Linked DNA regions of Homo sapiens. The protein of the gene in region 1 purifies or fractionates together with the protein of each later gene. This does not show direct contact. Each region holds a gene or a part of one and is shown in the gene's direction. Other genes may lie near its edges. The genes, in order: EYA2, CGRRF1, TIMM21, ACAD9, GMPPA, GPI and ETFB.

Region 1 (2,251 bases):
CACAATGGCTCATGCCTGTAATCCCAACACTTTGGGAGGCTGAGGTGGGTGGATCGCTTGAGCCCAGTAGTTTGAGACCAGCCTGGTCACCATGGTGAAACCCTATCTCTACAAAAAATACAAAAATTAGCCAGATGTGGTGGCATGCATCTGTTGTCCCAGCTACCCGGGAGGCTAAGGTAGGAGGATCGCTTGAGCCTGGGAGGTTGAGGCTGCAGTGAGCAGAGATCATGTCACTGCACTCTAGCCTGTCTCAAAAGAAAGAAAGAAAGAAAAAAAAAACTCCACATCATGACAATAACTTGAAGCAGGTACCACCTGCTGCAAAGAAAAGGAAAAGATAAAAACGAAAGCTATAAAGAAAACAGATTAGTGTCATCTGACCTGGCTAGCTACAGTGGCCTGCTGAAGACTCTCCAAGACCAGCTCTGTTTGTTCACAGTGGAGACTGTCAATGCTGGGGAGGGGTTCCAGCACCGAGCTGTGACTTTCTTCTTGAAGTAACAGGATTCAGAGCACTGCAGCCTCCAATTCCCGGCCTCAAGCAATCCTCCCGCCTCAGCCTCCCAAAGTGCTGGGATTACAAACGTGGGCCACAGTGCCCAGGCAAGAACAAATTTTTAAAAAGGAATCGCTTTCCCATTGTGCAATTTAACACCATGTCAGTGCACCGCCTAAGACCACGCTGGTACCAACAGAGGCGAGAGGGTCAAACAGCGAACACGCTGGGCAGTGCTGGATAAGCCCGTCAGAGCAGGCTCTGAATAGAAATGGTTGGCCATACTGGTGGGTACTGGCCAGATGTGGGTCTGCCAGCAACATCAAGTGCCCCATAGTTTGGGAAGTCCCCACGTGCTAGACTTAACTGGGTTGACTTCTCACATGCCCTCTAACCACAGGCGTGGAACCCGGGGGCAGGGGCGGGGCCATAACCTTGTGGCTGGTGTTCTGTGTTTCAGCACAACATGCCTTTCTGGCGGATATCCTGCCACGCAGACCTGGAGGCACTGAGGCACGCCCTGGAGCTGGAGTATTTATAGCAGGATCAGCAGCATCTCCACCTGCCATCTCACCCTCAGACCCCCTCGCCTTCCCCACCTCCCCACCGAGAACTCCAGAGACCCAGATGTTGGACACCAGGAAGGGGCCCCACAGCCGAGACGACGTGTCCAGTGACCATCTCAGAAGCCGTCCATCAGTCCAAATGGGGGTTCTGAGAAGGAAAGTACCCAACATTGGCTTCGGAGTATTTGACTTTGGGGAAAAGGGCTGGCTCGGAGTCTAGACTCTTCTGTAAGACTCACAGAACAAAAGCAAGGAATTGCTGATTTGGGGGGTGCCTGGTGATGAGGAGGGGATGGGTTTGTCTTGTCTTCTTTTTAATTTATGGACTAGTCTCATTACTCCGGAATTATGCTCTTGTACCTGTGTGGCTGGGTTTCTTAGTCGTTGGTTTGGTTTGGTTTTTTGAACTGGTATGTGGGGTGGTTCACAGTTCTAATGTAAGCACTCTATTCTCCAAGTTGTGCTTTGTGGGGACAATCATTCTTTGAACATTAGAGAGGAAGGCAGTTCAAGCTGTTGAAAAGACTATTGCTTATTTTTGTTTTTAAAGACCTACTTGACGTCATGTGGACAGTGCACGTGCCTTACGCTACATCTTGTTTTCTAGGAAGAGGGGGATGCTGGGAAGGAATGGGTGCTTTGTGATGGATAAAAGGCATTAAATAAAACCACGTTTACATTTTGAAGTGGGGTAGGATGTGGTTACTTTATTACCACTCTTGAGGCTTCCAAATGTGTTGTCCTTTTTAAAGACTTTATCAGTTGCAGAAGAATAGAATCCAACTCACACTGGCTTAAGCCAAGAAAAATGGGGTGGGGGGAGGGAGGAAGGAGAAGAGGGAGAAAAGGAGGGAGGCAGAAAGGGAGGGGAAGAAGGACAAAGGGACAAGTGTCTCCAGGAACTTTAGGTGGTATCTGTCTGGATCCGGGTGGTCAAATGAATTTCTCTCATGTGGCCGTAATTCTCAGGCAGGCTGTTCCCTGTGTGGCAAAGACGGCTCTACGAGTCCTTCAGCAAAACCACACAGACAGAAAGAGACCACATTCTTCACCGTGGTGCAGCGAAAGCCTCAGGACTGTAACTCGTTGGCCAAATCTGAGGCTTAGGCAACTCACGGAGCTGGATTTAGGGTTGGATCCTGTCACGAACAGCAAGTTGAACAAGCTGATCCTCCAAGGGAAAGAA
Region 2 (3,500 bases), on another chromosome or scaffold:
GACCATATAGGAACCATTAGAATTGTAAAGAAAGAGATGCTTAAATTTGTTAAGGTGAAGAGGCATATTCAGGAAAGCCTTCATAAAAAAGAATATGCTGAGTCTCTCTTACTTTTTTTTTCTTTATTCCTTCCTCCTTTTTTTTTTTTGAGTAGAATCTTGGAAGATAGGTGTTTACTTCGTGGATGAGAAATGGAGTGATACATTAAAGAAACAGTAGTTATGGCTAAAGCATAGGATGGGACAGGTAACAGAGGAGTCTAAGAAGACTCAGGTTCTTCCTATGGGTCCTCCATAGCCAGATCCTGTTAGAAAAATGAGGAGTACAGAAAGAATAGCAAGTTTCCAAAGAAAGGCAATGAATTCAATTTTGAACTTTTGGACTTTGAAATTCTTTCGTGACAGTTCAATAGAAATAAAGAGTAGGCAGTCCTAGATACAGTTCTGTAGCTTTTTTTCTGGGCCGAGACCCTGTCCCTTCTATACTTGCTTACATTTCTGGTTTCTTGAAAACAAATAAGCCAGATCTTTCTCTGCTTTTCATCCTAGTCTAGCTACTGCCGTATTTCTCTTCTTCCCCTCACAGCCAGCTTCTTAGAAGCTGTTTGCATTTTCCTTCTCTTAGCCTGCTTCATTTTTACTCCTCAGTGCAGTGCAGTCTGACTTTTCCCTGTATCCCTTTACTGAAATGGCTTTCTCTGAGGTCACTAATTACGACTTCTGCCCTGCACTTTTGACCCCCAGCAGTCATCAAATCCAGTGGGAGCCTTTCAGGGCTGAGTTAATGCTCTCTCTCTAGTATTTTACAGAGTTGACCTTCATTTGCAACGTCCTGCTCCCTTGCGTCTATGGACCATTCTTGTCTATTCATCTTTCCTGCCTCTAACTCTCAGAATCTAATAACTGGTCAGAAATCAGTTTACTTAGTCAAATAGATCATCAGGCTTAAGTAAATCTTGATTTGTAAGGAAAAATATATGTTTTTTTTTTTTTTTTTCGAGACAGGCTCTTGCTCTTCCACCCAGGCTGGAATGCAGTAGTATGATCATACCTCACTGCAGCCCCAATACCCTGGGCTCAAGTGGTCCTCCTGCCTCAGCCCCCTGAGTAGCTGGGACTACAGGTGTGCATGACCGTGCCTGGCTAAATAAAAAAAAAAATGTTTTTTGTGGAGATGGGGTCTTGCTGTGTTGCCCAGGCTGGTCTCAAACTTCTGGCCTCAAGCAGTCCTTCTGCCCCAGGCTCACAAAGTGCTGGGATTACAGGCGTGACCCACTGTTCTTGGCCCCAAAAAGTACAAAATTTCTTATTCATCCTCTTTAGCTGTAAATACTATTACCCTATGAATTGATGGAAACTAGGATCTCGGCCACTCCCCTCCCCGCTCCTTCCCTATAATAGATAACAGTTCATTCTGATATTTTTTACTTGAGAAAACCAAATTTTGAGATATGACACAGATAAAACTAATTTGTTTAAAAGATAGTAGGTTGTGCATGCCTGATTAAAGTGTACACCCAGCTACCAGCTACTCGGGAGGATGAGGTGGGAGGATTGCTTGAGTCCAGGAGGTCGAGGTTGCAGTAAGCCGTGATCACACCACTTCACTTCAGCCTGGGTGACAGAGTGAGACTCTGTCTCAAAAAATAAAATAAAAAATCAAGTGTACAGCATAGTGGTGGTTCAATAACCTCCCACCTCTGTGGCCATAGGCTAGAACCTGCTACAATGTCACATCTGGCTCTTGAGCAGGACCCGCAATGAAAAACCTACCAGCTGCAAGGCCTTCCTTCCTGCAGTACAGTTCCACAGGTCTGAAAATACACTGAAAAACTAAGAAGAGCTGATACATTGTGAGCAAAACACAGGGCACTTGTGAGGCAGAAAGTGTGAGGAAATCCATCAATCTGCTTTTCAGGCAGAAATAGTCACAAATAGAACCAGCCTTGCGAATGTTTGAGGCAAATGAAAAGATAGCCAGTAAGTAGCCCTCTTAGCTATGCCTGCACACTAGTTGCTAACCAACAGTAGTATTACTGAAGTCATGAAAAATTATTTAAATGTGTGGATGTACAGCATGAATACTGAAATATTTTAATTTTTAAAATACCGATGCATATCATTTATTATCTTTCTCCTATGGGGAAATAGAAGGATTTTGATAGGAGTTATACTCAACAGAGTAAAATTCATTTGTTTAAACTGTGGAAAAGTGGGTATCATTAAAGATGTCTATACAGAACATTAAAATAATATTGTAACAATATTTGTGACATTTAAAAAAGTTATTTCATTTGATGTGTAGATAGTTTAAAAATCTTTTTTTCACCACTGTACCCAAACTGCCTGACATATAGCAGAAGAGGGTGAATAATCTAGAGACCTGATTTAACTTGAAAATAAACCAGAGGCTGCACGTGGTGGCTCATGCTTGTAATCCCAGTACTCTGGGAGGCTGAGACGGGCGGATCCTTGAGTCCAGGAGTTCAAGACCAGCCTGGCCAACATGGCGAAACCTCATCTCTACTAAAAATACAAAAATTAGCTGGGCGTGGTGGCACATGCCTGTTAGTGCCGGCTACTCAGGAGGCTTAGGCTGGAGGATTGCTTAAGTCTGGGAGGTTGAGGCTGCAGTGAGCTGAGATCATGCCACTGCACTCCAGCCTGGGCAACAGAGTGAGACCCTGTCTCAAAAAACAAAAACAAAAAAACACACATGCTTTTTATTTATATTTAAGATTTTTTTTTTTTTTTTTTTTTTTGAGACGGAGTCTCGCTCTGTCGCCCAGGCTAGAGTGCAGTGGTGCAATCTTGGCTCACTGCAACGTCTGCCTCCCAGGTTCAAGCAATTCTCCTCCCTTAGCCTCCTGAGTAGCAGGGACTACAGGTGCATGCCACCATGCCCAGCTAATTTTTTGTATTTTTAGTAGAGACAGGGTTTCACCGTGTTATCCAGGATGGTCTCAATCTCTTGACCTCATGATCTGCCCACCTCGGCCTCCCAAAGTGCTGGGATTACAAGTGTGAGCCACTGCGCCCTGGCCATATTTTAAAATTTATAATTAAAAAAAAAAGAAAACCAGAGAATCGATTTTAATCTGAGTCATTTAGTTCTGTTTACTAGGGGTGGGTTGCTGGGATTTTTTTGTTGTTGTTATTATGTAATGATATATTTGGATTTGCGTTTCCATGTCTCCAATATAGAGTCTTTAATGAAATTGAAAGTTAGATACTCAGTGTATATAAGTTGAGTTGAATTAATTTGATTCAGGAATTCTGCTTTTTGTAAATAGCTTCCTTATATTTTAGCTTATTCACTCTGGTAAGAGCTAACATTAAAGCAAAAGGGTTAGAAAAAAACACAATGTACATGGCATGTTTGGAGGCGTTTGTGAACCTCCATTCTCTACAACCTAAAACTTTCATCTCCCAATACTCTGGCTTTATTATCCTCATGAATGGTCTCCTTGTTTTATTACTGCTTCTCTCACAGGGATCCT
Region 3 (3,500 bases), on another chromosome or scaffold:
ACACACAGACCCCTTGCTTTGATCTGGAGGCTGCTTTTCTCTCGCAAGAAGTGCAAAAGCAGCAGACAAGCTTGCCTGCTCCCAGCCGGCACCCGTAACCCATTGGTGTTTTCTCTTCACAGTGAAAGAAGCCGGAAGAGATTTTACCTATTTAATAGTGGTGCTTTTTGGAATCAGCATTACAGGTTGCAAAAAACAGCAAGTATAAGCCCTTGAATATTTTTTAAACTGGACTTTTTATGTTGCCCTTGCTTCGCTTCATCTTTGTTTTCTGTGATTTCAGGTGGCTTGTTTTACACGATTTTCAAAGAACTTTTTTCTTCATCCAGTCCTAGCAAGATATATGGGAGAGCCTTAGAAAAATGCAGATCACATCCTGAGGTTAGTTCTCAAGATTGAGTTACATGAACTCTGATGAGGGGGAGAAAATGTCTGGGAGGAGGAAGTGGGCAGAATTCAAGAACCAGTTCTCACGCTAGTGAAATTCACATAATAATACATAATGGTCGAGTCATCATTACATTATTAGGTCTTTGCTCTTTAAGAGAACCCAAAAGTCAGTGTACAGATGTTTTCATGCTAATTGTACAAGACAGTCATTTTGCTGGTTGTTCATAGATACTAAATTTTTAGAATACACCAAAATATTGAACTCATGGTAAGTTTCTAGTCTTTTTAAAGCCTGATGCATGACCTCATGGTCATAATGTCATTGCTGACACTTACCGAAAATGTGTCCGTGCAAGCACTCTGCCCAGGGTCTCAGTGCATCATCTTTATTCAGTCTCACAAAAACCATTTGTGTTCGGCACTACTTTGTCTTCAGTTTGCAGAAGGGGAGACTGACACTTAAAGAGATTAAGTAACTTCACCAGGATCACTGAGCTAGTAAGTGGGGGAACCGGAACCCGAATCCACACAAATCCAAAATTTGCTTCCAAATCTAAGCTCTTAAGCACAGTCTGCCTCTACCCTTCCCTGGGAGGAGTGGACATGGGGAAGCTGCCTTGGTTCTTTGAAGGACCCTGTCAAGAAGGAAGGCTTTAGATGTGACCTTCCAGTCACACGTAGCCGGTGTGGCCTGGGAAGTGTCAGATTTCTTACTCCCTGCTGCAGACCTTCAGCACTGAAAATATTACTCATTGAAATACAACTTCATTCACCCTGAAAGATAACAGCAGGTAATCGTCTGCCATTATCATCATAAATATTAGGGCTGTTCTTCACACAGACCAAGGAGTAATGTCATAGCTCGCATTTGCAGCCCCTGAAGAGGAGAAAGATTTCAATCCACAGCGTGCTCAGTATAGAGCCCGGTGCTGATCTTCCCTGGGGCCCCGGCTCTGAATGTTCTACCAGTTTTCTAATCATGTCAGGGTGGAAACCTCAGAAGCTAACGATCTCTGGCATCTTTCCTTTTAAATCCACTGATTTCTCTTCATTGAGCTCTGGACAGCCAGTGGTAACCATGGAGAAAGGCAGGGAGGATAAAGTATCTCAGAGGTGAAAACCAGGAAATAAGGAAGGTTCGTTCCCATAATAGTTACTGGGAATCCAAATTTTATCTGACAAGAAACATTCTTTACAGACTCCGGAAATACCTGTGGGTGGTAACCTCATTAAATGTTAGGACGCATCTCTGGAAAGAGATGAAGAGTTGCTGTTTTATTCGCAAACTCAGCCTTTCGTAGATTTTTCAGCATTTTGAACAAAAAACTCCACAAGAATATACAAAAGTGGGATATTATTGAAGTCGTAACTTCATTTGCTGCCTGAAAAAACTCTACAAATAATAATTAAACTTTAACAATTTTGTCAACATTTTTTAAGGGGTACCCTTCTCTTTGCTGGGTACTGTGTCTGCTTGAAAAACAAAATCTTGATGGATGTTGATATTTATATGTTTAATAGATTAAAGTAAATTGTTCTATTTGTTTGTGCTATACAATTCTGCAATATCATCTTACATATTACTTCTTTTTATCCTGGAAAATGTGATACTGAAGATACTCCACAAACAGACAAAATAAGATAAATTTCGTAGAGTTGAGGGTCAAACTTTTTTAGTTTAATATCAAATTTATATTTTTTAGAGGGTTCCACAGTATTTGCATTTTGAATTCAATAAAAACTACATTTCTACTTCATGTGGATTTTCTCATTAGAAATAGTAGATTCACACCTGTAGCTCTGATTTATTTTAAATGTCATTATCTGTTTTCTTTTTCCTCACTGTGTTTGGTAACTTTAAAAATTTTTTGATCTCATAGTTTTAGTATTAGATGCTATTAATTAATTACATTTCATTAAAAATGTTCATACATTTTATCTTCAAACCATAAGGGGTTAGTAGAGAAACATCTGAACTCTGTGTTGTTATGTTTGTTTTCTGTAAGAGGAGCAGGAACTGCGTCATGTCAACCTACATTGCTTTGAAACTACAAGTCACACCATAAAGCTACCTATTTTAATCTTTGTGCATGAAATATTTGTTTAAATTATTTATGGGATGATTTTTGTATAATAACCCTTTTTTCAGTTTTCTTATTGGAGTGGTCATTTTTTTATTTGTTTGTTTGTTTGTTTGTTTTGAGACGGAGTCTCGCTCTGTCACCCAGGCTGGAGTTCAGTGGCACGATCTTGGCTCACTGCAGCCTCTGCCTACTGGGTTCAAGCGATTCTCCTGCCTCAGCTTCCTGAGTAGCTGGGACTACAGATGCGCATCACCATGCCCAGCTGATTTTTATATTTTTTAGTAGAGACGGGGTTTCACCTAGTTGGCCAGGCTAGTCTTGAACTCCTGACCTTGTGATCCACCCATCTTGGCCTCCCAGATTGCTGGGATTATAGGCGTGAGCCAGGAGTGGTCATTTTTGAAAAGGTCCTAAGCTTACTGATTTTTTTTTCCTAAAATCATCTGGTTTGTTAAAAATTATTTCTTTAGAAGCTTAAAAAAATAACACAAAATAAAGCACTGTCCTTGTTCTGCAGGTGATCGGTGTCTTTGGTGAGTCTGTTAAAGGCTATGGGGAGGTGACAAGGCGGGGTCGCCGGCAGCATGTCAGGTACTGTGGCTTGAATTCAGAGGAGGCTCTGGGGAGATTTTTAAATGAAAGGAACTTAGACTGATCTTTCGTTTTCTCGACAGGTTCACTGAATATGTAAAAGATGGGCTGAAACACACGTGTGTGAAATTCTACATTGAGGGCTCTGAGCCAGGGAAGCAAGGAACGGTGTATGCGCAAGTGAAAGAGGTGTGGGAATCATGGGATGTGGGGTCAGAGGTTCTGAGCGCGGTGTTATTTAAGTTCTGGAAAGGAAAATAATACCTGGAAACACTACATTTTTTTCAGAACCCAGGAAGTGGTGAATATGATTTTCGATATATATTTGTAGAAATTGAATCTTATCCTAGAAGAACTATTATCATTGAAGATAATCGATCCCAAGATGATTAAAATAGGGTTTCTGATGGATGTTGAATGGCGTGGACTCGCTAC
Region 4 (3,500 bases), on another chromosome or scaffold:
GAACTGCTGCAGGGATGGGTGGGAAGTTGAGTGGGTGGGATTTGGGTGCCTGTTTTCCCTATCAGCAGTCTCAGTCAGAGCCGCCTGCTTCTGTCTGTTTTACATATTTGGTTTCTGCACTAGATTTCTTTGAATAACAGGTTCCACTTTTTTAGATAATTTACAAACTGTTTATTGCAATTGAACTCTCCTCCCCTAAGGCATTGACCTGATTTGATAACATCAGGATCTTTCTCCCACGCCCCTGCAATCTCTCCTGTGTGGCAGGTTTTCTGTGGTTGTACCTGAAGGCCAATTAGTTGCCAGGCAGTCTTATCTGGCCTGCCCACTGGTACCAGAATGATCTCTAACACAGCCCATTGCACAAGACCCAAGTGTCAGTGAGCCTCTGTGTTCAGTGAAGGAGACTGAGCTTTGATATAAAAGGCTGCAGAGTGATGGAGCCATCAGCTTGTTTTTTTTTTTTTTTCTTGTTTTTTTTTTCCTTGAGACAGTGTCTTACTCTGTTGCCCACCCTGGAGTGCAGTGGTGCAATCACAGCTCACTGCAGCCTCAACCTCCCCAGGCTCAGGGGATCCTCCCACCTCAGCCTCCTGAGTAGCTGGAACTACAGGCGTGTGCAACCACGCCCAGGCTGGTTTTGAACTCCTGGGCTTTAAGCAATCCCCCTGCGTCAGCTTCCCAAAGGACTAGGATTACAGGCAGTAGCCACTGCAACCAGCTAAGCTTGTTTTTTTCTTTTTCTTTTCTTTTTTTTTTATGGAGTCTCACTCTGTCACCTAGGCTGGAGTGCAATGGCGCAATCTCGGCTCACTGCAACCTCCACCTCCCGGGTTCAAGCAATTCTCCTGCCTCAGCCTCCTGAGTAGCTGGGATTACAGGCGCGTGCTACCAAGCCCGTGTAATTTTTGTATTTTTAGTAGAAACGGGGTTTCACCATGTTGGTCAGGCTGGTCTCAAACTCCTGACCTCGTGATCCGCCCGCCTCGGCCTCCCAAAGTGCTGGGATTACAGGCGTGAGCCACCGTGCCTGGCCTCCAACCTTTTTTTTTTTCTATACCACCTTCAGGGTGGTTTTGGAATGGATGGAGGCAGGGATTCCTTTAAGTTGGCTGTCACTTTTAGTTAGGGACTCACCTATAAGCCTGTGGTCCTGGGCCCAGAGAGGAGAAAGCAGTGCGAGCATATTGATAGAGTAGAGAAATCTGTTGGCTGATTAGCTGTACAAGGTCTGAGGAGAAGGTTGAGGTCTCCCCAAGACTTCTCTAGAACACTTGGTGAGAGGCGCCATGAGGACAGGTGATGCTTGGGCTTATAGCTCTGACTCAGGACATCACTGCTCAACAGCCTGAAGCCCACATCCAAAGCTCATGTCATGCTGGCAATTGAAGGGGTAGCAGAGCCCAAAAGTCCAGAGGGGCTCAGCACAGGGAGCAGATGTCTGTGAGCAGGAGAGACAGCGGCTGTAGGGATCGATGAGACTTGGTAAGCATGATGTGCTCTTGTCAGCATAGCATCTTTGAGCTCACACAATAATTGATGTAGAATTGTCCATTTCAGTAAGGAGTTTCCACATCCACTATCTTCCACGATTCTCACAAGGGCCTTGAGTAAATATTACCTGCATGTTATGGGTGAGAAAGGGGTAGTTTAGAGAGCTGAAGGGATTTGGTGAAGGCCACATAATGAGTAAGCCTGAAATCAAGGACCAGACCCCCAGGCTTCTAAATGTTAGTCTTGGGCTCCTTGTTTCATGGGACTATTATCATCCCTTGTACTGAGAAGGAAAACTGATGAAAATCGGGAAGAACCTATTTGAACAGGGGAGGGAGATGGATGTGGGTGGTGGAGCCTGCACATAGTTTCTGTATCTCAGGAACCTTGTGAGGTTTGCTTTCCAGTTCCTTCAGTACGTCATGTCCCGCTGGCCAGGGTGGAGTGGAGCACATGTTTTTCCTTCCCTTTTAACTGATATTTCCGTGATGGGAGTGTGCTAAAAATTAAATTTTTTAGAAAATATTTACTATTTTTAGAAAGAAGTTTTCCCATTTCCAGAAGTTAGCCAAGATGAACTTAATGAAATCAATCAGTTCTTGGGACCCGTGGAAAAATTCTTCACTGAAGAGGGTATGTATGGTTTTCTTTACCATTGCCGATTTCCATTGTAAGGGCTATTTGGTTGATATTTATATTAGAAGTGACATACATAGGAGAAGTCTTCTTGAGGGAGAAATGGTTTCCACTCATAATATTTTGCTTTAGGTTTCATCCCTATTGCCATTTAATTAAAAAACATCCAGTTAAATGCTTCTCATTGTATTTGTGGTTCAGGAGCACTTTAAACATTTCCATACTGTTCCAGGTCAACACTTCCATAAAGCTATAATAAAAATGAATAACTAAAAAAATTAGATGGCAAAAAGCCAAGGCCACACACCATACAAGCCCATGGAGCATGTGTTGGTTGTTGTGGCAGTGTACAGTTGCTCTTAGTGTTTCTAAAGGTTGAGTTTCAATTTCTGTACTTTGGTAATTGTAAACAAAGAGTGATTTGTGGACCAGCCACAGTTTGGCACCTGCATGGTGAGGCAGCATTTGACCTCAGGTCCCTCTCTCAGAGCTGTTGGCCGGTCCTCCAGCCAGGGCCTTGGTGGAGAGTTCAGTGATGGTGGATGGACAGCAGGTCTTCCCTAATAGTAGGATCCTGGAGAGCTTTTGTTTATATGAATTTTATCTATCAATATTTGCCATCTTAGGGGTTATTTTATTTTTATTTTACTTTATTTTTTTGAGAAAGGGCCTAGCTCTGTTGCTCAGACTGGAGTGTGGTGGTACCATCTCATCTCACCACCACCTCCATCTTTCAGGCTCAAACAGTCCCCCAACTTCAGCCTCCTGAGTTGCTGGAACTACAGGTGCGCACCCCCATGCCCAGCTAATTTTTTTGTATTTTTCATAGAGACAGGTTCTCACTATATTGCCCAGGCTGGTCTCTACTCCTAGGCTCAAGTGATCCTCCCACCTTGGCCTCCCAAAGGGCTGGGATTACAGGTGTGAGCCACCATGCCTAGCCCCTCTTAGAAATTAAAACTGAGAAATTTAAAATATACTGTGGGGCTGGGTGCAGTGGCTCACGCCTGTAATCCCAGCACTTTGGGAGGCCAACGGGGACAGATCACCTGAGGTCTGGAGTTCAAGACCAGCGTAGCCAACATGGTGAAACCCTGTCTCTACTAAAAATACAAAAATTGGCCGGGCATGGTGGCGGGTGCCTGTAATCCCGGCTATTCAGGAGGCTGAAGCAGGCGAATTGCTTGAACCCAGGAGGCAGAGATTGTAGTGAGCCAACATTGCACCACTGCACTCCAGCCTGGGTGACAGAGTGTGACTTTGTCTAAAAAAAAAAAATAAAATATACTGTGTTCATTTGTTTAAAAATAATAAATCCATTACATGTTAACATAATATTTTTAATGAAAAATATTTTGTTTTTGTTTTTC
Region 5 (2,800 bases), on another chromosome or scaffold:
CGCCCCATCTAAGGCCTCCTCTGCTCATAGCCATTTCTCACTCCCACCCGTGTCTCTGCTTCCCTCTCCATCTCTCCTGGCCTCTCTGTCTCTGTCTCTGCTGAGCTGGCATCTCTACCATCTCTCTCTCCCTTTCTTTCTGTGACTGTCTCTGCCCTCACCAGCTGCCTTGCTCTGGGGTGAGTCTGTCTGTGTTTCATTCCATCCAATGAGGGGGAGGGTAACTTGGAGGGGGTAAAGGGCTGAATGGGGATGAGAATGTGAAAATGGGGGGAACTCCTTATGGAAATGGGGCAGGGATGGGAAGCAGGCCTCTGCCTGGGGCTCCCTTGTGATAGCACCCACCCAAGTGGGGGCTGGGTGGGAGAGGTTCCTGGGATGTGAGCAGCCACATCCCAGAGAGGGCCGAACCAGACCTGGAGAGAGGGGCTTAGAGAGGTGGTGGGAATCCTCCTACTCCTGTCCCTGGGAGACTGTGTTAGCCCCACAGTCGGGGCTCAGCTGGGGGACTAATGTCAGCATTCTTCCTCTCTGCCAGGGAGGACTCACCAGGCTTGTGGCCAGGGGCAGGTACCATCCGCCTAGAGCAGGATGTGTTTTCAGCCCTGGCAGGGCAGGGCCAGATATACGTGCATCTCACTGATGGTATCTGGAGTCAGATCAAGTCCGCAGGGTATGGAAGGCTGGGTCCCCTGGGGATTGAAATTTTGGGGTGGTGGGCACAGGCCCTGCTGACCCCTGAGCCCCTGTCCCCCTTGCGGTCCCCAGTTCAGCCCTCTACGCCTCCCGCCTCTACCTGAGCCGATACCAGGACACTCACCCAGAACGGCTGGCCAAGCACACCCCAGGGGGCCCATGGATCCGAGGTACCCAGCCTGCCCCAATTCCTAACCTTTGGCTTCCACCCCAGCCCTCTGAACCAGGATTCTTGACCTCGAGTCCAGAGTTAAAGCCTCAATCCCTGCCCCTTCCTGATCAAATTCGGTTTGGGATATTTGCCCCCAGGGCCTCTCTTCTGCTTCTAGGGAATGTGTACATCCACCCGACCGCCAAGGTGGCCCCCTCGGCTGTGGTGAGCACTGGTCCCAGCCCCAGGGAGGGAAGGGTGGTGGTCGGATGGATGGAGGGTGCCCACGCTGCCTGAGTTCTGGGTGCCGGTTTCTTCACTTTGTCACAGCCTATTGTGTGTCCTCGAGCAGGTCACTTATGCCTTATCTGTTCTAGAAGGGAGTTGGGTTTGGGGATCCTCCAAGTCCCTCCAGGGCTTATGGTGTGTGCTTCTCTCCACAGCTGGGCCCCAACGTCTCCATCGGGAAGGGGGTGACCGTGGGTGAGGGTGTGCGGCTCCGGGAGAGCATCGTCCTCCATGGAGCCACTTTGCAGGTAGGTACCAGCATACACAGCAGCATGTGACACCCCAAGAGGCTGCGGGGAGGGCCCAGGCATCCCCCCAAGAACAGAGAAGGGTGAACGCCGTGGGCTCTGCATCTGGCCACACCTCACACCCTCCGGTTCCTGCTGCCTCCTGCCTCTTCCCCTTACCTTTCACTGTCCTCTTTGGCAGGAGCACACGTGTGTTCTGCATAGCATCGTGGGCTGGGGGAGCACCGTGGGACGCTGGGCCCGCGTGGAGGGTACCCCCAGTGACCCTAACCCCAACGATCCCCGAGCCCGCATGGACAGTGAGAGCCTCTTCAAGGACGGGAAGCTGCTGCCTGCTATCACCATCCTGGGTATGGCTTCCTGGGGGCCAGGGCTGGGGGAACCCCTCAGCTGATGGCCAGTGGCCCCGGGGAGCATTCGTTCCTCTGTGTGCACGCGTGTTTCTTCTTTTAGCAAACAGTTACCAAGGGCCTGCTGTGTGCCAGGCCCTGTGTGAGTCACCGGGGGCATGAGACCAGGGGCACAGATGGGCAGGAGGGCTCCCTCCCTGCTGGCAGTGGCCCCCAGCTCCCTGCCCCTGTCTCCCCTCCCATGACCTCCCCTGGTGCCCTCATCCATGCTGCAGGCTGCCGAGTCCGGATCCCTGCCGAGGTGCTCATCCTGAACTCGATTGTTCTGCCACACAAGGAGCTGAGCCGAAGCTTCACCAACCAGATCATCCTCTGAGTAGGGCTGCCAGAAGGCCCCCAGCTCCTACCCACTCCCCTTGAGGCTGCTGCCTGCTTGGCCAGCCTCTGTCCAGAAAGGACCAGAGAAAGCCAGGCTGGATCGTCACATGCCGGGGAGCAATGTGGATGGCCTGGGGACTCCTGGGTTTTCTCCCTCCCGACTCCCTAATAAACCCCGTGAACCTTGGAGCCAGCACAGACTGTACTTATGTCTGGGCTGGGGGTGGGGGCGGAAGCGGGGCAGCTGAGTCAGGCCCCCCCACATTAGCATTTAAATTGGAGTCGTTGCTGTGGGCTCATGAATAATGAATCTGGAGCCCTGGTAAATCTCCCCCTCCCACTGCCTCAGCCTCGTGCTGCTCGGGAGGAAGGCCCTCTAGGCTCCCCTGCCAGCCTGGTCCCCCCCTTCACCCCTGCCTCCCTGCCTCCCTGTTCCTCCTCACCGGGCCTGGCTCAGGCCCCCATGTGCAAGGATTCCGAAGGGAAGGGTGAAGGATTTTGGTTGGGCAGCAGGCAGAGGAACTGGGGCCACAGGCCTAGAGGCTGATCCCCACAGCCCGCTCTGCTCGGTTCCCGCTGAGCCCAGCCCTGGCCGGTTTTCCGCTTTGCCAGCTCCATCTGCTCCCAGCTTGGCTTTTGGCAGGGTGGGGGTTTTGCCTCTGCCCGAGGCCTCATGTCTCTGTCTTCTA
Region 6 (3,500 bases), on another chromosome or scaffold:
GAGAAGCTGCGGCCTTTGACCTGCAGGCTTAGGGTTGGGGGGTGTGTTTACCGTCCCCCCTCCTCTGGTTTTAAAGAGCTGGAATCTCAGGAGGTTATGTGGCGTCACTGTCACTGACCTGCAAATACTGCTCCATGGGACAGCTGGGCATTGCCTTGGCCTCTACTGCTGAACCCTGGCTCAAGGCCTGCACCCACCCCTAAGCTCGGGCGCCCACTGCTGTTCTCTTTGGTTGCAGACCTTTACTACCCAGGAGACCATCACGAATGCAGAGACGGCGAAGGAGTGGTTTCTCCAGGCGGCCAAGGATGTGAGTGGGCTATAGGGCCTTCCTCGTGGTTAGCCTCTGGGCTGGGAAGAGCAGGGTGGGCCCCTGAGTGACCAAGTCTGGCCGTGTTTCTCCTGAAGTTGGAAGTGAAGGCGGCCTTGCCGGTGCCTGCCTTTGCTAGATGAGATGATTGTTCATCTTGGCTTTGTCAGACCCAGCCTTGCAGATGTGACAGAACCTGCTCTCGCTGGCTGACAGCCCTTGCATGGCCCTTTCTCTGCAGGCCCTTGGCGCTGCAGGAACTCTTGGCCACACCTATTTTATAGGGGAGGGACGTCCCTGAGCCCCGTATGCTTGTAAGATGGGATGAGCAGGCGGCCTGTGACCCGTCTGCTTTCTTGACCTTGACCTCGATGTGGGCCTTCTCCAACAGTCTCAGAACCAAGGACTGGGAATCTCAGTCCCATGCAGGGCCTTGGTTCCTCTAGTGATGGGAAGTGACTACCCTTTGTCTCCCTGGGCTGGCTGTGGTAACTTGGCTCTGTCTCTTGTAGCCTTCTGCAGTGGCGAAGCACTTTGTTGCCCTGTCTACTAACACAGTAAGTGCCCCCGTGGTCCCCTGTACTGCCTTCCTGGGAGTGCCCAGCATGTCCAGGTCATGGCCTCTCAGAGACGCGGTTCGTAGGTCTGGTGGATCTTGGCTTGGCTGATGGTATGGAAGGTTTGGTTGCCTGTGGGCTGCAAGCCTTCCTTGCCTTTTCCGCATTTACCCATTCAACCTCTGCAGCTTTGAGGAGGGAGGCTTGGAGTCAGTGGGATCACGATAACCCCTTCTTCCGTCTCCCAGGCCTGACTGATACACAGAACCCTTCATACACATGACCTTCCTAGGCCTTTGTGCCCAGCATCTCCCCAAATGTGACATGCTAGGTAGGGGTAGAGGATGCATTCCATTTTTCACTTAAGGACATAAAGCCCCAATGAAGGGAGGTGACATTTTGCCCCCTACTTAGTGTGTGTGGTTTTGTTTTTTTTTTTTTTTTTTTTTTTTTTAAGACAGTCTCACTCTGTTGCCCAGGCTGGAGTGCAGTGGCGTGATCTTGGCTCACTGCAACCTCTGCCTTCCAGGTTCAAGCGATTCTCCTGCCTTAGCCTCCCGAGTAGCTGGGATTACAGGTGCACGCCACCATGCCCAGCTATTTTCGTATTTTTAGTAGAGACGGGGTTTCACCACGTTGGCCAGGCTGGTCTCTGACTCCTGACCTTAAGTGATCTGCCCACCTCAGCCTCCCAAAGTGCTGGGATTACAGGTGTGTGCCACCATGTCCAGCTTATTTTTTGAGACAAGGTCACTCTGTCACTCAGGCTAGAGTGCAGTGGTACGATCTTGGCTCACTGCAACCTCTGCCTTCTGGGTTCAAGTAATTTTTATGCCTCAGCCTGCTGATTCTGGGATTACAGGCGCCCACTACCACGTCCAGGTAATTTTTGTATTTTTGGTAGAGACAGGTTTTCTCCATGGTGGCCAGGCTGGTCTCGAATTCTTGACCTCAAGTGATCTGCCCACCTCGGCCTACCAAAGTGTTGGGATTATAGGCATGAGCCACTGTACCCGGCCCACTTAGTGACTGTATGAGTAGGTGATGCCAGGATTAGAACCTGGGTCTCCTGTCTCCAAGTTCTCACAGTCTGCCTGGCCTCGAGGTTGTGCAGGCTCAGCAGGGCATGACAGAGTGAGGGATGCTCCAGGAGTGACAGCAGCAGTCAGCCAGTGGGCACTGTGCTGTGTCAGAGCTGGGGACTACACCCACATCTCCCTCCCACCCCCTCCACCATCATCCCCACATCTCTGCCTCCAGTGCCTACCCAGCTGCAGCAGGACGCCATAAGGCTGGCTAACCATAGCACTGTTGCCTGCCTGCAACTGACTGGTCAGTAGGGCTTCTCCTCCTATGTGGAATAGGTAAGGAATTGCTGGCCCTGTCTGCCCTGGGGACCAGAATACCTGATGGCTCCTCAGAGCTTCCTGGTGCAGTCACCCTCCCACACATGGGAAGGGCTGGGTGGCTGTTCAGCCTGTGTTTGTTTGCCTGGCCTGGTAGGTGGCCCCTGCCCACACTTGGGTCCCAGTCCTAGGTTCGGTTCCCAGATGTCCAGGGGTATCATGCTCTGGTGTCCCAGGCAGGCCTGGGTGAGAGCTGTTGCAGAGCAGTGTGTGGGCCAGGTCCTCACACGGGGTTACAGCTGCCCTCAGCAGGGGGCTTTGCAGGCACAACGTCACTGGCGTGCTGGTCATGGACTGATCTGGTGTCCAGCTTGGGGTGGGCAGATCCTGGGCCCTGCCCTCGACTCACAGGCTGCTCCAGCCCTGCCCCATCCCTGGCTCTGGGGAAGGTGAGGCTCAGCTCACGGAGCACAGCTCCCTGCCTCCCGGAGCTCCTGTTCCCATCCCGCTAGCAAATGCTTCTTTGCATTTCTCTCCCTTTGTTTTTTTTTTTGTAGACCAAAGTGAAGGAGTTTGGAATTGACCCTCAAAACATGTTCGAGTTCTGGGATGTAAGTACAAGCACTTCTGCACTGGGTGAATTAAGTGTCCTTTGCCAAGTCATGGCTGTTGAGAGGCCCATGAGGTCAGGTCAGTGTTTATTGAGTACCTGCTGCATACCTAGCTTGGGGAAAGGTAGAGAGGCCCTCAGAGAGGCTTGGAGGGCAAGAGCAACCCAGGCAGGATGAGGGCTCCACTTCCACCTGAGGGCGGGCTGAGCTTGCAGGGCCACATGACACTCCCTTGGGTGCCTGCCTGCAACACCCACTGTGGGGTAACCCGAGTCCCCCTTGCCACGCTCACAGAGTTGAGGTTGTGAGTTATTCTCAGTGATGACCTTTCTCTGAACTGCAGCCACCATCTGTAAAGGCCAAGGGCAGGGTGAGGCATGAGGTATGACCGGGTAGGCCTGGAAAGGAGCAACAGGAGCTGCAGGAGGAGCTGGGGGGGTGGCGTAGAGGAGGCGCCAGGCTGGGGCAGCTTGCAGAGCAAACCCTGCCTTGAGTGACAGGGCTGCCGACCCCTCTGTAGCAACAGGTGGTCCATGGGACCACCTCTGCTGGAGCCGAGCAGTGAGCCACAGCTTTCCTTGTGCACTTGCCTGAGCTCAGCAGTGGTGTGAGGAGGGCTCTGACTGTGAAGCCCAGGGTGCAGGGGTGCAGTGCAGGGTGTGATGCAGGCACTGTG
Region 7 (3,500 bases), on another chromosome or scaffold:
TATGGTGTGTGTGTAGGCAGGGTCAGTATTGGTCACTGACCCTTACACTGCAGTGGCATTTGTGAAATAGGTCAGGGTCACTGGTCACGTTGTCTAAGGTGTTATCCGAGCTCGTTTCACAACCAAGAGAATTAAAGAGCATAGACCACCCAAAAGGTGAGGTTGGAGCGAAAGTTTAATAAGCAAAAGAAGAAAGCTCTCCACAGAGGAGAGGGAAGCCCAAGCGGGTTGCCATTTTTACAGTTGATTCCAAAAGCTTTTTTTTTAAAAAATTATTTATTTATTTATTTTTTATTATTATACTTTAAGTTTTAGGATACATGTGCACAACGTACAGGTTTGTTACATGTGTTTATATGTGCCATGTTGGTGTGCTGCACCCAGTAACTCGTCCTTTAGCATTAGGTATATCTCCTAATGCTATCCCTCCCCCCTCCCCCCACCCCACGACAGTCCCCGGTGTGTGATGTTCCCCTTCCTGTGTCCATGTGTTCTCATTGTTCAATTCCCACCTATGAGTGAGAACATGCGTTGTTTGGTTTTCTGTCCTTGCGATAGTTTGCTGAGAATGATGGTTTCCAGCTTCATCCATGTCCCTACAAAGGACATGAACTCATCATTGTTTATGGCTGCATAGTATTCCATGGTGTATATGTGCCACATTTTCTTAATCCAGTCTATCATTGTTGGACATTTGGGTTGGTTCCAAGTCTTTACTATTGTGAATAGTGCCGCAATAAACATATGTGTGCATGTGTCTTTATAGCAGCATGATTTATAATCCTTTGGGTATATACCCAGTAATAGGATGGCTGGGTCAAATGGTATTTCTAGTTCTAGATCCCTGAGGAATCACCACACCGACTTCCACAATGGTTGAACTAGTTTACAGTCCCACCAACAGTGTAAAAGTGTTCCTTTTTCTCCACATCCTCTCCAGCACCTGTTCTTTCCTGACTTTTTAATGATCGCCGTTCTAACTGGTGTGAGACGGTATCTCATTGTGATTTTGATTTGCATTTCTCTGATGGCCAGTGATGATGAGCATTTTTCATGTGTTTTTTGGCTGCATAAATGTCTTCTTTTGAGAAGTGTCTATTCATATCCTTCGCCCACTTTTTGATGGGGTTGTTTGTTTTTTTCTTGTACATTTGTTTGAGTTCATTGTAGATTCTGGATATTAGCCATTTGTCAGATGAGTAGGCTGCAAAAATTTTCTCCCATTCTGTAGGTTGCCTGTTCACTCTGATGGTTAAACTAAAGAGCTTCTGCACAGCAAAAGACACCAAAAGCTTTTATAAGAAACTCCTTTCATCTCTGTAGCTGTTTGAGTATCTTATCTGTAAAGCTATCTGCATAACTCTCCGTTATCTATGTAGTTGTGGGTACGTCTTTAGGCAAGCACAAAGCTCCGCTTCTCTTGTTTCTGTAACCGTGGGTTTGTTTTAGGTAAGCTCCGCCCCTCCCCGTGCAAGTTCCCACAGAGACCACCATGTACGTGCCTGAAAAGGGGAGGGAACTTTTCCTGGGAGCCTGTCAGTCACGCAAAGAACAAAAGGCTTCTGTGCTGGGCAGCTTGAGTTTTCCCCAGGCTGCTCTATTGTTGCCTGTAGCTGTGATTTTTCAGGCAGGCTGCTCCTCTGAGGACCACCCTTAACTGTCTACCTAACTGGTTTTTCCTTTTCTTCTCCTCATTTGTATTTATGTATCAGTGTATTATGTATTTATATACACTTGGAGATACAGTAAAATGTACCTCTCACTGTGGGTTACCATAAATACTGTAAATTTGAGAAACACTCTTTCAGGCCTGAGAGGAGCAGTGACAACAGTAGGGATGATCAAGTCAGATGTCCCTGGTACCCAGGAATGGCTGGATGAGAGAAGGAGACAGGGTGACCTGCCCCTGCCTACAAACTCTAACCCAGTTCTGTCCCTGGAGCTGTGTGACCCCGGACAAGGCCCTGCCCCTTTCCAGGCTGTCGTTGTCCTCATCCAGCCTGGGAGAGGGTTGGCGCTGAGGCCCCCACCTTCTTGCCTGTTTCCTCCTGACCCCACCCCTTCCCCTCCTGCTGGGCAGATCCGAGTGAAGCCTGACAGGACCGGTGTGGTCACGGATGGTGTGAAGCACTCCATGAACCCCTTCTGTGAGATCGCGGTGGAGGAGGCTGTGCGGCTCAAGGAGAAGAAGCTGGTGAAGGAGGTCATCGCCGTCAGCTGTGGGCCTGCACAGTGCCAGGTGATGAAGGTCTTGGGGAGGGGGCTGGACTCCTGGGTCTGACGGAGGAGGGGCTGGGACCTGGACTCCTGGGTCTGAGGGAGGAGGAGGCTGGAAGTCTGGACCCCTGGGTCTGAGGGAGGATGGGCTGATAGCCTGGATTCCTGGGTCTGAGGAAGAAGGGGATGGGGGCCTGGACTCCTGGGTCTGAGGAAGGAGGGGCTGGGGGCCTGGACTCTTGGGTCTGAGGAAGGAGGGGATGGGGCCCTGGACTCCTGGGTCTGAGGAAGAAGGGGATGGGGGCCTGGATTCCTGGGTCTGAGGAAGGAGGGGATGGGGCCCTGGACTCCTGGGTCTGAGGAAGGAGGGGCTGGGACCTGGACTCCTGGGTCTGAGGGAGGAGGAGGCTGGAAGTCTGGACCCCTGGGTCTGAGGGAGGATGGGCTGATAGCCTGGATTCCTGGGTCTGAGGAAGGAGGGGATGGGGGCCTGGACTCCTGGGTCTGAAGAAGGAGGGGATGGGGGCCCGGACTCCTGGGTCTGAGGAAGGAGGGGATGGGGGCCCGGACTCCTGGGTCTGAGGAAGGAGGGGATGGGGGCCCGGACTCCTGGGTCTGAGGAAGGAGGGGATGGGGGCCCGGACTCCTGGGTCTGAGGAAGGAGGGGATGGGGGCCCGGACTCCTGGGTCTGAGGAAGGAGGGGATGGGGGCCCGGACTCCTGGGTCTGAGGAAGGAGGGGATGGGGGCCTGGACTCCTGGGTCTGAGGAAGGAGGGGATGGGGCCCTGGACTCCTGGGTCTGAGGAAGGAGGGGCTGCGAGCCAGACTCCTAGGTCCCCCTGAGGATAGCAGCCAAGTCAAGCCCCTCTGTCCTTGGCAGGAGACGATTCGTACCGCCCTGGCCATGGGTGCAGACCGAGGTATCCACGTGGAGGTGCCCCCAGCAGAAGCAGAACGCTTGGGTCCCCTGCAGGTGGCTCGGGTCCTGGCCAAGCTGGCAGAGAAGGAGAAGGTGGACCTGGTGCTGCTGGGCAAACAGGTAGCTGTGGTCAGCCCTCCCTGTGCCCCCTTGCTCATCCCTGCTCGGGAGGAGGGTGGTGGAGATACGGGGTGAGACAGCAGCTGGCCAGGCCCAGGGCATTCACCACTCCAGGCTGAGCAGCTTGGGACTTTGCTGACCCTTCTGACAGAGAGTTTGAGCAGGGAGGACAGAGTCCCTCTGGGTGTTAGAAAGATCCTCTTGGGCCAGGCACGGTGGTTTACGCCTGTAATCTCAGCACTT

The links.
Region 2: the proteins of EYA2 (region 1) and CGRRF1 purify together in Homo sapiens (affinity purification with mass spectrometry, with the first as the bait; one large-scale study listed by BioGRID). This does not show direct contact.
Region 3: the proteins of EYA2 (region 1) and TIMM21 purify together in Homo sapiens (affinity purification with mass spectrometry, with the first as the bait; one large-scale study listed by BioGRID). This does not show direct contact.
Region 4: the proteins of EYA2 (region 1) and ACAD9 purify together in Homo sapiens (affinity purification with mass spectrometry; 3 studies listed by BioGRID and IntAct, with this or other methods). This does not show direct contact.
Region 5: the proteins of EYA2 (region 1) and GMPPA purify together in Homo sapiens (affinity purification with mass spectrometry, with the first as the bait; one large-scale study listed by BioGRID). This does not show direct contact.
Region 6: the proteins of EYA2 (region 1) and GPI purify together in Homo sapiens (affinity purification with mass spectrometry; one large-scale study listed by BioGRID and IntAct). This does not show direct contact.
Region 7: the proteins of EYA2 (region 1) and ETFB purify together in Homo sapiens (affinity purification with mass spectrometry, with the first as the bait; one large-scale study listed by BioGRID). This does not show direct contact.

The regions. Positions count from the first base shown.
Region 1 is NC_000020.11:47,187,094-47,189,344, forward strand, and holds the end of EYA2 (protein phosphatase EYA2), read left to right. Parts: intron 1-959; coding exon 960-1,040; 3' UTR 1,041-1,751; downstream 1,752-2,251. UniProt on the Homo sapiens protein: Functions both as protein phosphatase and as transcriptional coactivator for SIX1, and probably also for SIX2, SIX4 and SIX5.
Region 2 is NC_000014.9:54,523,406-54,526,905, forward strand, and holds part of CGRRF1 (cell growth regulator with RING finger domain protein 1), read left to right. Parts: intron 1-3,500. UniProt on the Homo sapiens protein: Able to inhibit growth in several cell lines.
Region 3 is NC_000018.10:74,155,023-74,158,522, forward strand, and holds part of TIMM21 (mitochondrial import inner membrane translocase subunit Tim21 precursor), read left to right. Parts: intron 1-122; coding exon 123-185; coding exon of another isoform or gene 186-202; intron 203-283; coding exon 284-381; intron 382-2,991; coding exon 2,992-3,065; intron 3,066-3,148; coding exon 3,149-3,254; intron 3,255-3,353; coding exon 3,354-3,458; 3' UTR 3,459-3,500. UniProt on the Homo sapiens protein: Participates in the translocation of transit peptide-containing proteins across the mitochondrial inner membrane.
Region 4 is NC_000003.12:128,882,620-128,886,119, forward strand, and holds part of ACAD9 (complex I assembly factor ACAD9, mitochondrial), read left to right. Parts: intron 1-2,033; coding exon 2,034-2,127; intron 2,128-3,500. UniProt on the Homo sapiens protein: As part of the MCIA complex, primarily participates in the assembly of the mitochondrial complex I and therefore plays a role in oxidative phosphorylation.
Region 5 is NC_000002.12:219,504,690-219,507,489, forward strand, and holds the end of GMPPA (mannose-1-phosphate guanylyltransferase regulatory subunit alpha), read left to right. Parts: intron 1-164; coding exon of another isoform or gene 165-179; intron 180-538; coding exon 539-673; intron 674-768; coding exon 769-866; coding exon of another isoform or gene 867-1,025; coding exon 1,026-1,072; intron 1,073-1,290; coding exon 1,291-1,383; intron 1,384-1,564; coding exon 1,565-1,733; intron 1,734-2,008; coding exon 2,009-2,109; 3' UTR 2,110-2,300; downstream 2,301-2,800. UniProt on the Homo sapiens protein: Regulatory subunit of the GMPPA-GMPPB mannose-1-phosphate guanylyltransferase complex; reduces the catalytic activity of GMPPB when part of the complex. Mediates allosteric feedback inhibition of GMPPB catalytic activity upon binding GDP-alpha-D-mannose.
Region 6 is NC_000019.10:34,378,696-34,382,195, forward strand, and holds part of GPI (glucose-6-phosphate isomerase), read left to right. Parts: intron 1-238; coding exon 239-310; intron 311-822; coding exon 823-867; intron 868-2,770; coding exon 2,771-2,824; intron 2,825-3,500. UniProt on the Homo sapiens protein: In the cytoplasm, catalyzes the conversion of glucose-6-phosphate to fructose-6-phosphate, the second step in glycolysis, and the reverse reaction during gluconeogenesis.
Region 7 is NC_000019.10:51,352,889-51,356,388, reverse strand, and holds part of ETFB (electron transfer flavoprotein subunit beta), read left to right. Parts: intron 1-1,546; exon of another isoform or gene 1,547-1,750; coding exon of another isoform or gene 1,751-2,080; coding exon 2,081-2,239; intron 2,240-3,098; coding exon 3,099-3,257; intron 3,258-3,500. UniProt on the Homo sapiens protein: Heterodimeric electron transfer flavoprotein that accepts electrons from several mitochondrial dehydrogenases, including acyl-CoA dehydrogenases, glutaryl-CoA and sarcosine dehydrogenase.